Regions from separate parts of the Homo sapiens genome. Here region 2 is linked to region 1. Evidence: fine-mapped expression QTL. Tissue or cell type: nasal epithelium. Region 1 holds a variant in brackets; the other region holds the start of a gene. All regions are shown on one strand. Distances are between the middles of the regions. Region 1 holds the start of GRXCR2 (glutaredoxin and cysteine rich domain containing 2). Region 2 holds the start of PRELID2 (PRELI domain containing 2).

Evidence for each region. PIP is the estimated chance that this variant, and not a neighbour inherited with it, causes the effect.
Region 2: it holds the start of PRELID2, and the variant in region 1 is the best candidate, but not a certain one, in a credible set for the expression of PRELID2 in nasal epithelium (TOPMed, PIP 0.59).

Annotation. Positions count from the first base shown.
Region 1 is chr5:145,870,344-145,874,866 of GRCh38, reverse strand. GRXCR2 (glutaredoxin and cysteine rich domain containing 2) reads left to right here and starts at 1,853. Exons shown (of 3, transcript NM_001080516.2): 1 at 1,853-2,234. The coding sequence starts at 1,899. The variant G/A (reference allele first, on the strand shown) is at 2,559.
Region 2 is chr5:145,833,722-145,837,983 of GRCh38, reverse strand. It overlaps PRELID2 (PRELI domain containing 2), which reads left to right and starts at 2,642. Exons shown (of 7, transcript NM_205846.3): 1 at 2,642-2,807. The coding sequence starts at 2,733. RefSeq lists a silencer at 2,331-2,450.

The DNA.
Region 1 (4,523 bases):
GGGTAAGCTTGTTGGTGTAACTGGAACACCAATCCCAGGCAGCCCCTGGAAGAGTGACAGAGGGCAAGGCTGGAAAGGAAGGAAGGTGAGGCTGGTTTTTGAGGGGCTTTGCTTGTCACATGGAACAGTTAAGACTTAAGCCCTGATGCACTAGAAAAGATTTTTCAGCAAGAGACTGACACCTGTGGATTTGTTGTTTTGGACTATTGCTCTCACATCAATATGGAGAATGGAATTGGGGGTGAGTAGGGAAGTCCTTGGGAGACAGCTGCAACTTTAAAAATCAAAGTGATGAGGGTTTGCCCTAGGGCCAGGGTGATAGGGGTAGATGAAAGAAGGCAGTGGTGAAAGAATCCATGTGAATGGGCTGGGTGCGGTGGCTCATGCCTGTAGTCCCAGCACTTTGGGAGGTCAAGGCAGGCGGATCACGAGGTCAAGAGATTGAGACCATCCTGGCCAACATGGTGAAACTCCATCTCTACTAAAAATACAAAAATTAGCTGGGCATGGTGGCGTGTGCCTGTAGTCCCAGCTACTCGGGAGGCTGAGGCATGAGAATTGCTCGAACTCAGGAGGTGGAGGTTGCAGTGAGCCGAGATCGTACCACTGCACTCCAGCCTGGCAACAGAGTGAGACTCCGTCTCAAAAAAAAAAAAATAAAATAAAATAATAAAAAAAAAGAATCCAAGCGAATGGCTGTAGGGGAATAGGAGGGGTCAATTTGGGTAACTCAGTAAATGGTGATGCTGGTAGCAAAGACAGGGAGAAAGGCTTTACTCCACTTTCAGCTCCTCACATCCAACCTACCATTTTCTACCCAGCCCAAGGGCCCTTTTCTTTACAAACCTTCTTCCATCCTTGTCTCCTTAGAGACCACTTCCTTCCCAGAGTGGCTATTCTGGGATTCAGCTGTGGGCAGTTTGCTCTCTAAGCATGAGGTTATTATTTCACCTGTGTGAGGTCTGTATGGGATTGTAGGACTGTTCTCAGGCCCAGGTCACATGCTTCTGTGCTATTCACTCCAGCCACTAGTTCAGTGTCAGGCATTTACGAAGTCCAACAGGCAATGGGGACTTGTGCTGTGATTGCAAATGAAATCTTAAATGTAAAATACATACCAAGTGGAGGTGCTCTGGTTAGCGTAGGGGGAGAAGGCCCAGAATCCAGGACCCTCGGCCTTCTCCTGTTCTTAGCAGCAGCCTCCAAGAACCTCCACTGTATCTAGGACGTCATTCCCTCTTCTAGAACCAGAACTGGAAAACTTCTGGTTGTGTGGGCTGATCTTGGGTTTTGGAGTCAGATAGATCTGGGTTCAAATCCCTGCTCTGTCACTTACTTAGGTGTAATAGAGCAGACAAATGATGAAGATAAATGACAAGTGGCTCTAAGCCTCACTTTCCCCTGTGTAAAACAAAGGTAAGATTTTCTTTGTAGGGTTATCGTGAGGATGAAATAAAATAATGCATGTAACAATCTCTGGTACTTATGAAATGCTCACTAGATTTTAATTGTCATTGCTAACAATAAGAAGACACTTGTTAACTAATTGAGTGTCTGATCCTTATTGAATTGGCACATGTTCAGTCTAAATAAACTTCTTCATCCTCAGGTTAAGAAAGGTTAGGGTTGGGGTGAAGTCATGGTGAGCTTGGGATTATGAGAAGAATCAATCTTGTCTTATATTCCATCCACTCCATCAAACCAGAATCACCTGCCTTTTCATGAGGGTCTATCAATATTTAATGTATGGGTGTCAGTTGCTGTAAACTGACCATACCCCAGCAACAACTTGAATTAATTATATGCAGGAGGAGAGAAAATAAAATGCCTTTTTCTCAGAGGCCCAAGTTTCACCGGCTGCACGGAAGGCTGGAGACCACAGGGTCAACTTTCTGCTGATGGAGGACCCTGAGAAAAAGCTGAATCAGAAGAGTGATGGCAAACCCCGGAAAGTACGATTTAAAATCTCCTCCTCCTACAGCGGTCGAGTATTGAAGCAGGTCTTTGAGGATGGGCAGGAATTAGAGTCACCAAAGGAGGAATACCCTCACAGTTTTCTGCAAGAGTCTCTTGAAACAATGGATGGTGTTTATGGGTCTGGGGAAGTCCCCAGGCCCCAGATGTGCTCCCCTAAGCTGACTGCTCAGAGGATCAGTGTGTTTAGAGAGGGTAATGCCTACACCTTGGCAGGCGGCCAGCCTCGGTTCAACGATTACAAGGCGAATGACCATAAGGTTGGTATTGTGCATGGCATATAGGCTTTAAGGGTAGGGCTTCCTAAAACGTGTTTAGAGAAACTCCTAAATGGTTCAGATTTGTGTCTTGCTCCCCCTCCGGTACCAACCAGAACTGTTGGTGCACCAAATGGGAAGTTGTTATTAGACGAATATTTCTGGGGTAAAAATAACATGCTTGTTGACTACTAATTGGAAAGTGCAATGAGCATATATAGTATTCAAATTCCATCCAAGGTAATACATTGTAATTGGATCTTTGACTGAGTTTTCCTGGAATGTAAATTAAATAGAGGTGCAGTGGTTTTCAGGTTGTCAGACTGC[G/A]GTTTTAGACAATTATGCAGTCATTTTGTTTCCTGAAAGAGCTGAGTATTTGAAAGTGCTCATTTTACTCCAGCCAATTACTCAGCTTGCAGTTTATCCATGTCTTGTTTTTTACCCCTATTGCCTTCCTCATACTGCCTGCTTTGTCTATTTATTTTTCCTTTCCATTGCTCCTTAGCATAAGCTCTGGGTAGTTGGAGTCCTGGGAAGGGATGGTGAAACGCAAATCAGCCAGAGGATATGTTATGTGAGGAAGAAGTTTGAGCTAATGGTTCGATTGAAGAATGTGTTTAATCTATGAATTTCAATTACTTCCCAGTACCATGGATAATCAAAAGTCCATACATGATTTTCTTTTAAGGTAGAACCTGGAAAACATACACTGGTATCCAAAAATTCATAGGAGATGTATATATGCTGTCAGTGGGACCATGAATGACTTCTTAAAAAAGATAAAATACAATTATATAATGTATCCACGTTATTAATGAATAGCACACCAGGATGTGTTCTCATCTTTAAAGTGTGAAAGCCAGATAATTACTCTTGAATTATTTTTATTGTTAGTTTCCTAAGGGAATAGATAACACATCTATTGCAGACAAATGTATTACTGGCTTTACTGGCATTGGTAAAAGTATAATTATGGGCATGTTCACAATTACCGAAGATAACACTAGGCTTGTTTTTGATATTAAAAGGGGCTGAAATGAATGACCTCTTATCTTAATGGGGTGACGTATGCAGTACAAAGTGTCATCATGTACTATCTCTGTCTATATCTATGGCATTGGGTCTTTACTATAACCTTGGGGAGAAAGGCCAAAGTATGGTCATTCCCATTTTGCAGAAGAGAAAAATTGAGTGCCAAGTTGTTAAGGGATCCATCTGATACTACAGGGTCATTGGGTACAGAGTCAGAATAAGAATCCAGATCTTCTGATGCTACAAATGTTTTGCTTTAGGGCATGTTCCTTTTTTTAGAGAACCATATTATTACATAATAATAATAGCTACCATTTGTTGAGTGCTTATTAGGTCCTAGGCACTTGGCTAGTCTTGTACTTATACTATTTCTTTTTAACTATGTCTTATTTGTAGATTTAGAATTTACAAAGTCACAGTTCATGCAAACCTTATGCAAGGCCACAGTAGATAAATTTTGGGTTGCTTGATCTTCATAAGTCATGTGCTAAATTTAGCATTTATGAAAATGTATAATTTTTTTTTTCTTTTTTAGAGACAGGGTCTCATCTGTCAACCAGGCTGGAGTGCAGTGGTATGATCATAACTCACAGCAATCTCAAACTCCTGGGCTCAAGGGATCCTCCTGCCTCAGCCTCTCTGGTAGCTAGGACTATAGAATTTATAAATCTAGGTAAATGAGTCTTCATGGCAGCATGGCTCAGTTGGTTAAAACACAGTACTCTATGTGTTTTAGAGGCCATGTTGAAGGTCTGATTCCTGCTTGGCCTCATTATCTCTGTTTTCTTTGTTTCCTGATCAAGTGCCCCATCCCAATCATAGCCAGATTCTGAGCATGAGAGTGACCAGGATGGATTCATGTAGCTGCACACCCTGGAATCATTTGTCAATGTGGTATTTATGAAAAAGAAGAAAATGAGAGCTAATGTCATGACTTTTCAATAACGAATCCAAATGTAAAACACTTCCTAGTAAATATTGGCTATGAGACCACATTGGGTAGCAATTAAGTGCAATAATTCAAAGCAAGGGCTCTGAACTCAAACAGATATATGTACAACATTGTTCATAGCAGCATTATTCTCAATTGCCTAAAGGTGGAAAGAACCCAAATGTCCATAGACTGATGAATGGATAAACAAGATGCGGTATGTACATACAACACAATATTATTCAGTCTTGAAAAGGAAGGCCATTTTGACACATGCACAATGTGGTTGACCCTTGAAGACGTTATACTAAATGAAATAAGCCAGTCAC
Region 2 (4,262 bases), 37 kb after region 1:
ATTTAGCAATTTGGTCATTGGTGACCTTGACAACAGTCGTTTCGGTGAAGTGGTGGGGGCAAATACTGATTGGAATGGGCTCAAGAGATTACAGGCAGCTCTTTTGAGGAGCATCAGTGGACCAGAGACTCGGAATACAGCTGGAGGAAGATAGGGGGTTAAGAGTTGTTTTTTTTGTATTGTTTCTGTTTTTGTTTTTAGATGGAAGAAATTACAGTGTACTTGTTGTGCTGGCTGGAATGGCCCAGTAGAGACAAAAGCTGATGATACAGAAAGGAAGGGGGATATTGCTAGAGAGATGGCCTTGAACAAGAAAGAGGACAGGAACTTTTAGTGATGTACTAGAGCTGGCCATTCAACACAGCTATTATTAAAGTATATAAATTTACAATCACATATAAAAATTAATAAATATTTATTTATTTGAGATGGGTCTCACTCTGTGGCCCAGGCTGGAGTGCATGGCACGATCATAGTTCACTACAGCCTTGAACTTCCGGATTTAATAGAGCCTCTGGCCTTAGCCTCTCAAGTAGCTAGGACTACAGGTGTGCACTGCCACACCTGGCTAATTTTTTATTTTATTTTTTGTAGAGATGGGGTTTCACTATGTTGCCTACACTGGCCTCAAACTCTTGGCCTCAAGTGATCCTTCTGCCTTGGCCTCCCAAAGTGCTGAGGTTACAGGCATGAACCATAGGAGCCTGGCCAAAGAGTAATAAACATTGAAAACTCATCCCTTCCTGCTACATTTTCCATTATTTATGTTTTTGGTTCTTTATGGCTGTCGTATGTGGGTGGTGGAAATACTATGTGATGGTGTGCTTCTGTGCTTCCCTCCCCAACTCCCACTCCTCACTCAACTCCATGTTGCTAAATCCCCAACTTGTGTTTAGTGACATCGAGTTGGCATCTTTAAACATGGTAGGAGTATTTACACCACAGGAATCAGCAACCTTTGGAAATCAGGGCCTTGCTTGATTTATACTTTAAAGGACAGCTATTTGTTAAACATTTTTCAGTTCACCTCAGGATTCAGTGGACAAATGGAGACACTGGTGCTAAAACAAAGTGCTGACAGTTCACCCACAGGAACAAGAGTGAAGGCAAGGCATTTGGTCTGGTGGGTAGAGAGGTGGCAGAGCGATGTGACCTATTGACTAAGTGAAAATGGAAGTAAGGTAATGACTGGAGTATAAGGCTGGGAACAAAGGTGTCAGAGGTGTGGAGGAATGCGGGAGAGTAAGTGGATTAGAGAAATTCAGTACTCTCTTTTTTTTTTTTTTTTGAGATGGAGTCTTGCTCTTGTCGCCTAGGCTGGAGTGCAATGGGCGAGCTCTGCTCACTGCAACCTCCGTCTCCCGGGTTCAAGCGATTCTCCTGCCTCAGCCTCCGGAGTAGCTGGGACTACAGGCGCCCGCCATCACGCCTGGCTAATTTTTGTATTTTTAGTAGGGACAGGGTTTCACCATGTTGGCCAGGCTGGTCTGGAACTCCGGACCTCAGGCGATCCGCCCACCTTGGCCTCCCAAAGTGCTGGGATTACAGGCGTGAGTCACCGCACCCAGCCAGAAATACAGTACTTTCATAGTGTATTTGTCTGGCACCATTAAAAGGCGCCATAGGGTTAGTGGTTATGAACTTAAAAGATGCACAGTGGGTGTGTATTTTCCTTCAGCCCCTTCTGGTGGCTTGGGTAGAGACAGTCAGAGGAGACCTAGATTTACACAAGGCTAGGGTTTTGCCAGACCAGTGTGACTGCGTATGGCAGGGGCGAGCGAGATGGCAAAATCGTAAAAGTCATCACCTCAGAGACCCTCCATAATCACCCTCACTAAAATCATGTCCGCGCCCGTGTCACTTTAACCGATTATTGTTTTTATTTTCCCAGCTTGTTGATTGGGTGTGAAATCAGCCGGCTCATCAGCAGAGCTGGTGTTTCCTCCCTGCGGAATCCGCAGTGCCCACTACAGCGCTGGGGCATAGGAGGCCTCAGAACCGTGCTGAATACACGGATTAACGTGCTGGTTCTCCTAACATCTGTTGGTTGCAGTAAATAATAATACTCGCAACTCTTTTGTATCCTCTAGTTCCTTGCTCCGTGGTGTTTAACCTTAGCGAGCAAAGGAACTTACCTGCAGGTTTTGGTGCACTAAAACGCGGTTCTTATTCCCGAGGCAATCTTTACCTTACACGAGGCCCAAACCCAAGCCTCAGAGGCAGCTGCCTGGTGGCATGAGTAATGCTGGCCTTTGTCACACCAGGCCTTCCTTATTAATACTTTTTTCCCGTGCTGCCAACCACGGCTTATTCTGTGACTCCAGGCGGTGATACCATAAACGCATAAGCCCAAGGTCCAGGTTTCCTGGGGCGGGGCGTGATGGCTCCCAGGCAGAGAAGCTTTTCTCGGCAGGCGCGGCCGCGGGAGGGCACCAGGGCCGCTCTGGCGCCGCCAGCGTGGAGACCGCGGGGCCCCGGGTGCTCTGGGAGCGCTCCAGCGCCTCCCGCGCTCTGTAACCCCAGGCCCCGGACTCTGGCAGTAGGGGCGTGGGCGTGGCCGACTGCGCGTTTCTCCGAGTGGCCAATAAAGTTTCGAAAGTTTGAAAAGCGGAGGAAAAAGGCCACGCCCATGTGGCTGTCCGAGTGTGGGCGCCTCCGGGCCTCTGCGGAGCCCTGGGCAGCTCTGAGCTCGCGGAGGCGTGGCCGGTGCGCGGGGCCCGCGGCGCGCGGGGATGGGGGTCTCGGTGGATGTGCACCAGGTGTACAAGTACCCCTTCGAGCAGGTGGTCGCCAGCTTTCTCCGAAAGGTACCGCCCCGCTTCCACCTTCCGTATCCCGCGCTGCCTCCGCTGCTTGCCCCTCTCTCCTCTCCTTCATCCACGCGGAAGCTGGCACCGCCAGTGTCTCTTTCCAGCTGCGGGCTTTGCTTCAGGGATGTGTGGGTCGAGAGGGATTTCCTCGAAGACTCCCTTTACAGGGAGCGGGAAAAGGGGCCGTGCTTGGCATCACGTTCACACCTGCCCCAGCTGAAAGAAGAGGCTTTCCTTTTAGGAAGAGCCTCCGGGAATCCCAGCTCGTGAGCTCCGTGGAGTTGCAGATGACCGACGTGTGGAGCTTTCCGGTTCATCACTGACCCCTTAAAAGCGAGGGGAGGCCATTGGGCAGTCATCCTGGTTTACTCAGCATGATGGTTCTGCTGCCCCATCCGCTGCTCCTTATTAAACAGCTGTGGGACATCGTGCAGGTTGCTTACTCTCTTTGTGCCTTAGTTTGCTAATCTGTAAAATGGGGAAAATAATAGTACCGACTCATAGAGTTGTTGTGAGGATCCAAATGAGGTAACTTGTGTAAAGTGCTTAGCACAGTTGTGACCTAAATGAAGAAACTGAGGCAAAATCAATATAAAAAGAGAGTTCATTCGAGCCAAGTTTGAGGGCTGCATCCTGGGAGTGAAGGTGCCCTGAGTATACATTCTGATGAGCAGAAGTCGAAAGTGGGTTTTTAAAGGAGAATAAGAAGCACTTCCTAAGTTGTTTACCAAGAATTTATATTAAAATAACATAAACTATTGATTGTCTGTACATTGTTCTTTGTATCACAAATTCCAGGAACTTGAAGATAATGGGTAAGGCAGCTGGTCAGGAACAAAATGCCTTTAACCAGTTGCTCCCAGGAATGGGTTGGGTGAGGAGGGGACCACTAAAGTCCTATACTCTTGTCTCTCTGGGCTTGATTGATTTTGCATATTTCACTGTAACTCACACAATCTGCTCTGAGCTATTTTTCTTTTTCTCACTGCTACTGATGTTTAGTTAGGGCTCTAAAATGTTATTGTTGTTTGTATTACTACAACCGATTTCAATACAGATAATGAACTCTTCCTCAATACTGAGGAGCCCTGAATCCCAAAGACTGTTTCTAGGATTGTGGGTCCTGATAATAGGAAAATGGGAAATGTCTTTGAAAAATCGAAAGCGCCCAGGCCTGGGAGGCAGGACTCCTGGACTCTGATCTGGTTCTATGCGTGGTTAGTTCTCTGGGTGACCTTGGCTGAGGGTCTTTTCTCTAGGCCTTAGTTTCCACATCTATAAGATGAAGGGGTTGTACCAGATGATCTTTGAAGGTCCCCTTCGGTTTTCATAAGCAAAATTTGCAACAGTTGCAATTTGCCTTGGTTAGCAGCCACGGGACATTGAACTCCATATGCAACCCGGAAGCCAAACTAAGGGAGATGCTGGGAAGATGAAGGTCATTTGTTAAAC